Regions from separate parts of the Homo sapiens genome. Here region 1 is reported to be linked to region 2. Evidence: microRNA targets listed by miRTarBase, many of them from high-throughput screens and not tested one by one. Region 2 holds a microRNA gene; the other region holds the end of a gene's coding sequence.

Evidence for each region. Region 2 holds the annotated microRNA hsa-miR-581 (UCUUGUGUUCUCUAGAUCAGU, at 1,812-1,832, shown strand). A microRNA usually pairs through its seed, bases 2 to 8, with sites in the 3' UTR of a target mRNA and lowers its output. Matches are read on the target gene's strand: a 7mer-m8 pairs with bases 2 to 8, a 7mer-A1 pairs with bases 2 to 7 and ends in A, and an 8mer does both.
Region 1: miRTarBase lists KNDC1 as a target of hsa-miR-581. Seed matches in the 3' UTR shown: 7mer-A1 at 599-605 and 7mer-A1 at 1,490-1,496.

The regions. Positions count from the first base shown.
Region 1 is chr10:133,224,499-133,228,498 of GRCh38, forward strand. It overlaps KNDC1 (kinase non-catalytic C-lobe domain containing 1), which reads left to right. Exons shown (of 30, transcript NM_152643.8): 30 at 161-1,914. The coding sequence ends at 392. Among named protein-coding and RNA genes, the nearest start is that of UTF1, 3.7 kb to the right of the region's middle. RefSeq lists an enhancer at 597-1,220.
Region 2 is chr5:53,949,148-53,953,395 of GRCh38, reverse strand. MIR581 (microRNA 581) reads left to right here and starts at 1,797; the gene lies at 1,797-1,892. All of the region lies in intron 4 of ARL15 (ARF like GTPase 15), which reads left to right.

The DNA of each region.
Region 1 (4,000 bases), not on the chromosome of region 2:
TTTCCACCTCGCCAATAAATACAGACAACCCACCCTTCAGAATTTACACGGTGAAAAGATTTAGTCCAAATGATTCCTAAGAACGCGGGGGGACTCCCTCCCCACGGAAGCCGCGCCCCTGCCCTGTGCAAACTAACGTCTCTTCTTTCCTCAACGGAAGGAACATCGCAAAGGTGGTGAGCCAGGTGCACGCGTTCCAGGAGAACCCTTACACCTTCAGCCCCGACCCCAAGCTCCAGTCGTACCTCAAGCAGAGGATTGCCCGCTTCAGCGGTGCCGACATTTCCACACTCGCCGCAGATAGCAGGGCCAACTTCCACCAGGTCTCCAGCGAGAAGCACTCACGGAAGATTCAGGACAAGCTACGGAGGATGAAGGCTACATTCCAGTAGCCGAGCTCGGGCCTGGTGTGGAATTCCAGATCCGAATCCGACTGTGGGGGGCGGGCTGGGAGGTGGGAGCCGCGTCTCAGGCCCGGCCGTTATCAAGGCCCCTCCGCCCCCGAACCCTGGGGAGCTGGACCAGGAGGTGGAGGCTCAGGGGACCCCATGGGGACAGGCAGAGCTGGTCTCCTCCCAGCAGACGGAGCCAGGACGGGCACAAGAGTCTTGGAGGTTTGCGTGTTTCTGCTAGAATTAAAAAGTTAAATTTAAAAATGAAAATGAAAGACAGCTTCCCAGGAGTTTTGTGCCTGTCTGCGCCTCTCACACACAGATAAGTGGCTCTTACCCAGCTCTCAGTGACTCCCCCACAAAACAGCAACAGCCTCCACCGCCAACTCAACAAACTTCAGAGTAGCTCCTCCCTGAGCAGGTTTCTGAGCCAGCCTGGGTTGGCTGAGCAACGAAGGGCCAAAGCTGACCTCTGAGTGGCCAACTGCAGCTCCCAGGGACTCCGAGACCTCCGGTCCGAGACCCTGCCTGGGTTCACCCCCCACAACCCAGACCCAGAACCGCTCTCCCCTTCCCTGCCCAGTGCCCCTCCTCCCCAGCCCAGACCCCCAGGTGCCCAAGGCCTGCTGCTGGAGCAGGCACCTTGGGCTGGGCCTGCTCCCCCAGGGCCCAGGGCCCCCCAGCTTAGAACAGCCCTTGGTGAGGTGGTCATGCCCGGGCAAAGGCCCTGCTTCCTGGAAAGGACACTCAGAGCAGCTCCAAGACAGAGGCTCTGTGGCGGGGGTCCCTGAGAGTGCCCCCACCCATCTCATGCCCCAGGGACCGCCACTGCCCACCGCCTCCAGCAGCCATGCATGTGCGCCCGCAGCCCTGCCTCCACAGCTCGCCACACACTCACGCTTCGCCAGAGACAGGAAGTGCGCTGCCTCCACGGCCCCTTGCCCTTGCTCAGGTTCTTGGACCCCAGGCAGCTGGTGTGGAGCCCCTTGGCCAGGGCCATGGGAGTCCCGCGCAGTCAGCTCCACATTGGCCTCTGCAGCTGGGTGACCAGAGCCCCGGGCACGGCCCCAGCTCCGTGGGGCTCTCACGGTGCCAATCACAAGACCCAGGGTTGTGCTTTTGAGTTTTAGAATTAGTCATTCTTTAGAGCAGCCAGCTAGTGGCATTTCTAGGAAAACTGTGACCTGTGACAAATCGCTGCATTTTTAATGTCAAGATGTGTTTTCCCACATAAATTCACCGGAGACATCCGGGCCCCGCTTCGATGTAACATGAGAGGAAGTCGGCGTCCTGGCCACGAAATGCAGTTCACTTTTTTTTAGGCTTTTATATGGATTATGTTTTGCTGACCCACGCCCGCATTTTCAGATTTTGTATCTAACAGACAGTGCTCAGTGCAAATCAACATTCCAGCGGTCAGGACTGACCCCGGGGCAGCACTGGGCTCAGGCTTCAGCGCGACTGTCCGCATGGCTCCCTCCCGTCCTGGCACCAATTTCTGAATAAAGTCCTTTCTACCAGCTGCTGCTGTGTGGTCACTCTGCGGGTCCCCACGGTGACCTCTGCAGGTCGACACGTTTTCCTTCATGGCCGCACGAAGGCCCCTTACAGGTGCTCACAAGGACTCCAGGTGCGAGATGTGCTCAACCCAGGACTGAAAACGAATCTGCCGGTCCACAGCGACGCCCTCTGATGCCGCAGAGAAAGGCCCGGGCCTGCCAGACGTGTGTCACAACTCAGGCCCCGCCAGGAGGAAAGCTACCGCCAGCACTCCCAGGCCGTGGGAACAAGCAAACGCACCGGCTGGGGCAGGAAACACTTGCTTCTGGTTGTGACTGCAAACAGCCTAAAAGAACGGACTCCCGTAACCACGCTCCTGTGTGCGCACATCCAGGCTCGCCCTCCATTGACAAAAAGGACGTCCCTCATGCTGGATGTGCAGTGTCTTCATCCAAGATCAGGACGGGCGTCTGTCCATCAGTTCTTACAGGCTATTTGCACAGACCCACGGCTGTTCTTGGGTCAATCTGCGCTAAACTCTGCCCAACCCAGCCAGTTCCCACCTGGCAGCCCTGTGGGCAAGACAGAGCTGGGTCCCCCGTCATCACGGTGCAAGCTCGCCGTAACTCTGACCACAGTGGAGCAGGAGGCCAGGACGGGGAGCTCCTGCAGGTGGGGCTTGTGGCCCGGGAAAGGACACTCTCACGGTTGTCACAGGGTAAGACTGGTGGACACCACTCAGGGAGGGGCTCACAGCCAGGGCTTCCAATGGTTTTGGGGTTGTAAACTGTGGATGCTTTTGGGAAAAGAGCTGATGGGTCTTTCGGGAAGTTCCCGTGATGAACGGTGCGGTTATCCGCCTGGAGGGAGGCCCAGGAGAAGCCGAGAAGACAAGATGGTGGAGTCCAATTGTGCTGGACAGGAGCTGCCCGAGACAGGGGGCCCTGGTCCTGGTCATGTGTGCGTCCTCGCCCCCACGCCATGCAGGCCGGACCCCTCACTGCAGTGGCTCCAATAAATTCAGCTCCGCTGAGCACAGGACTTTTCTCTTAGAGAGCTGACAGCCAGCAACCTCATGAGCCTCGCTTCTCGGCGCCATCCACTCCCCGGCTCTGTCCCCCACGCCGCCATCCACTCCCCGGCTCTGTCCCCCACGCCGCCATCCACTCCCCGGCTCTGTCCCCCACGCCGCCATCCACTCCCCGGCTCTGTCCCAGACGGGTTCAAGGCAGGCTGTGCTGTGCACTGCAGTGCCACTGTGGGCTAGACAGTCTGCGCTGGCGTCCTGTGCACCATCATCTCTGATCTCCACCCATCAGATGCCCCCAGCACCCCCAACCCTCAGTTATTAAAAATCTTTTTTTTTTTTTTGAGACAGAGTCTCACTCCGTCACCTAGGCTGGAATGCAGTGGTGCGATCTTGGCTCACTGCAACCTCCACCTCTTGGGTTCAAGCGATTCTCCTGCCTCAGCCTCCTGAGTAGCTGGGACTACAGACACATGCCACGACACCCAGCTAATTTTTTGTATTTTTAGTAGAGACGGGTTTCACTGTGTTAGCCAGGATGGTCTCAATCTCCTGACCTCGTGATCCGCCCGCCTCGGCCCCCCAAAGTGCTGGGTGTCAACAGGCTTGAGCCACGCGCCCAGCCTTTTTTTTTTTTTTAGATCCACCTCCCAGGTTCAAGCAATTCTCCTGCCTCAGCCTCCCTAGAAGCTGGGATTACAGGTGCACATCCAACGCCTCGCTAATTTTTGTATTTTTAGTAGAGATGGGGTTTCACCATGTTGGCCAGGCTGGTCTCAGACTCCTGACCTCAGGTGATCCGCCTGCCTCAGCCTCCCAAAGTGCTGGGATTACAGCCACCACGCCTGCACGCCCCCCTTTTCTTTTTAAGACAGAGTCTTGCCCTGTCACCCAGGCAGGAGTGCAGTCAGGTCATCACGGTACACTGCAGGCTTAACCTCCTGAGCAAAAGGACATCCTCCCGCCTCAGCCTCCCAAGTAGCTGGAACTACAGGCACCTGCTACTACACTCGGCTATTTTTTATTTTTTTGCAGAGATGGGGGTCTCACTATATTGCCCAGGTCAGTCTCAAACTCCTGG
Region 2 (4,248 bases):
AAATATAATACATATTAAGATTCTCTGAGCTCCCTACTAAATAACAATAACCCCTCACATTTGCATAGTGCTTTATACAAGACACGTATATTATCCTCCTCAATTCTTCAGAGGTAGGTAGAATCTCATTTATTTTATGGATAAGAAACTGAGACTCAGAAAGGTTAAGTAAGTTCCACAAGATCATGGAGCCTAGTAATTTGCAAAATAAGGCCTCCAATCAAATCCTAGTTTTCTTTCTATACCCCAGCTGCAGCTTTTAGTAATGGTCTAGTTCAGCATACATATAAATATTTATAAACATTGTGTCATTGTTCTGAATGAGTATATCTTACTATTTTGACTGTTTTATGACAGTGGAGCTGCGTAGTAAAGTGAACATTTGCAGAAGTTTAATCTACAGCCATTTTATATTCCCTCTCCCTCTGCTTTGAGATTTTATCCTTTGCTAGCAACAACATTCTTCTGTAACAACAAATAAAGCAAGCATCTTCCTATTTGCCTTCAAATAAAACAGGTTTAGGGATTATCTGCTCTTTTCACATACTTAAACACACCTTGAGTTTCTTTTTATAGACTTTCCTTTCTCCTGACACTGTGAAATCCCAGTGCTGTTTCTTATTTGAATGTTTTATCATCTGACACCTAATAATAAAAAGTCATTGGCACAATAACAGAGTTTCATCTTTCTTAAAGTTTAAAAATGTTTAGAAATTATTTCATTTCTTAAATAAAAATTGCAGTAGAATTAAGTATTTCCCTAGAGAGATAAAGATTGAAATTTGAAAGTAAATTGCTACTAACTTTGAGCCAATTAAAAAACTTTCATGGAAATGATTTTTTTCACATTCATTTTTTTTAATGTAGTGCTAAAACCAAGGAGTATCATATAAAACAGGCCCAAGGCACGTTTTGTACCTAAGCTAAAAATTACTTTTGTGGCCTTTGACATATCAAGGAACTTTGCTATTATAATGCAAGCATAAGATGAAATTTATTCAACCTTTTGAAAGTTTAAACATAAAAAGTTTAACATAAGAAACTAAAAAGTTTAAACATAAAAAACAGTTATTGTCTGTGCAAGGACTCAAATTCTTTCACTCTCTTCTTTTTTGTTTGTTTGTTTTTATTTTTGAGACAGAGTCTCACTCTGTTGCCCAGGCTGAAGTGCAGTGGCGTGATCTCAACTCACTCCAACCTCTGCCTCCCGGGTTCAAGCAATTCTCTGCCTTAGCCTCCCGAGTAGCTGGGATTACAGGCACCCACCACCATGCCTGGCTATTTTTTTTATTTTTAGTAGAGACAGGGTTTCACCATCTTGGCCAGGCTGGTCTTGAACTGACCTCATGATCCACCCTCCTCGGCCTCCCAAAGTGCTGGGATTACAGGCGCGAGCCACCACGCCCAGCTACTCTCCTCTTTCACACACAATTTCCAAAATCACAGCACAGATTGTCCAGAAAACATTTGTACTAATAGTTTTGTTTATGGAATTTGAGTTATTCCCCAAAGCACAAAATGTAAAAAAAAAAAAAAAAAAAAAAAAAATTCTTTTATGTAAAGTCTAAGAGAACAGTAAAAATATATAATGTGGTAGCTGGTAAGGAAGAAACTGGTTATAATTTTAAAGCATAAAGCATAATGCTTGAAAAAGATTCATGGAAAAACTATAATTTTATCTAGTTAATATATTTACAAAGCAATATATTTATTTACTGATATTTTTAGTGGTCATCATATCGAAAATATATAGGGAAGGAGTATATAGGGAAGGAGTAAGTAAGGTTTTCCAAAAAGTTATGTGAAGGTATTCTTGTGTTCTCTAGATCAGTGCTTTTAGAAAATTTGTGTGATCTAAAGAACACAAAGAATACCTACACAGAACCACCTGCAGACTGGTGCCAGTCCACAAAATATCTGTTTGAGTATGCAAGAAGATAAATACAGAAATTGAGAGTAAACATTTAGGAAATTTATAGCAATCTGACATCTCTGCAACATCCAAAGTATATGATTTTTGTATTCTACAAAAGCTTAGCTCAGATCTATGATGGGTTAGAAAACAAATACTCAAAACAAACCAGCTCCTTCACCACAGATGGTATTTGAAGTTCTGATCAAGCTCATGGTCTGCAAACCTTTTCTCTAAAGGGTCAGATTGTAAATATAGGCTTTGTAGGCCATACTCAAAGTCCCTGCTACTCAGCTCTCCCATACCCAGCTGCAATAGACAATATATAAACAAATGAATCTTGCTGTGTTTCAGTGAAACTTTATGGACATTGAAATTTGTATTTCATCTAATTTTTATGTTCTTAATATGCTAATATTGTTTTGATTTTTTTCCCCCAACCATTTAAAACTGTGAAAACCATTCTTGGCTCTTGCAGGCCATATGAAAACAGGGAGTGGGCTGGATTTGGCCCTCAGGCCAAGTTTGCTGACCCCAAGCTAGATCAGCAGTCCAGCCATCGTCAGGAACAGATGCTGTTATTTCTTAGTCTCAGTGTTCCCGTCTGTCTCGGGATTTTAATTGCCACTTACTTTCACTCTGCAGTTTGGGTTATTATTCAAGAAATACCTTAGAGCACTCATAATGCTTAGAACATTATGTTTAATAAAATCCAGAAGGAAAATGTTCCAAGTATCTCACTGTGGGAATACATTTTAGGATTTACTATGACCTACTGGTTTACATGAACTTTGCTGAGAAAAAAAAAAGCATGGAGAAGATTGGGATGGAAGATCTCTTTATTGTGTGTATAAAAGTAGTAATAGGCTATTTTAATTTGTGGCCTGGAATGGGTAGTGATAGAGCATGAGTTGAAATCTTGCTTCACGATTACCCTCAAATGGAGAAGTAATCTGTTTCAAATGGTAATCAAATGAAAAAAAGCTGTGAGTAGATTGTGTTAGCTTAGCCACCAAAATAGAGAATTTCTCAGATTCCCCCTCTGTCTCCAGTCCTTATTTTCTCCTACTGTTAACAGAAATTCAAACCCCAGCTGCTCCCATAGTTAACCAGCCGTCATGACATCGTCGTCTTTCTGTTCTTAGCAATTTCCATCTGGCTTAGTAGAAGTGGTTCCTCACTACCTTGAGCATAGTCGTTTTTTTTTTTTTAATTTTTGTAGAAACGAGGTTTTACTGTGTTGCCCTGGCTGGTCCTGAACTCCTGGCCTCAAGCATTTCTCTCACCTCAGCCTCTCAGAGTGCTGGGATTACAGGCATGAGCCACCATGCCCAGGCCGCCACTTTAAACACTTGAATACTACATACTTTCACTACTTGATTGATCTTGCACATAATCATCAAATTACAACATTCATGTTTATGGTTTTACTTATTTGTTTTTCACATTTATGTAGTGCCTTTTTTTCTGCATCGCTTAACATTTGCCAACAAATATCTGCACGTGAACTAAGCAAGTCATTCTGTTAGCACAATGACCTTGAGCAAAGGCACTTTCCTTCTTCATATGCATTTGTTAGTCTTTAGTCCTAAGTTTTTGCTTTTGTTTAGTTTGTTTTTTCACTCTTCACATACGAGCAGTCTTTTGGAAAGAGTTACTTATAGTATTTCTAACTTGGAGAAACCTTTCATCAAGTTGAAAAAGTTCAGTGTTCTGAGCGATTATGATAGAATCTCCTGTCAGAATATATGTTCCCTTTTTGTTCTACTTCAAAATATAAGAGGTTAACTCTTGTAGGCATGCCACAGTATTTTTGGATTAAGTCAGGCCCTCCAAAAAACTTAGAACTATGAAACAAACCAGTGTTTAAGAAGACACATCCTTGGAATATGAGCAAGCCCATTAATTCTGTATTTTGAGTAAAAGGTGTTTGATCTTATGCATGCTGTCTTCCATGTCATCATTTCAAATGATGAAGAAACTACATCTCCTAATATTTGAGAACAAACTGCAAAAGTTGGTCCCTTGATTGTATTATAAATCCATAAAAAGACCCATTTTTAAACACAGCAACTTTTTAGGCAACTTCCTGTTTTTCACTTGAAATAGAAGTCAAACTGTTATAAGTGCTGTCTTCATTATTCATATTTAATTACACAGTGGCTTATTCTTCATTATTTTAGTGTATTTGTGAATACTCTAGCTATTGAGTAGAATACTGGTTACAAAGCTAGTCTATAAACAACATGAAATGAAGGGTGCTGACTCAGAAATTTAGAGTCCTCCACAATACCATATCCAATGGGAATTAAATCATTGTATTGTCTTGTGAGTCT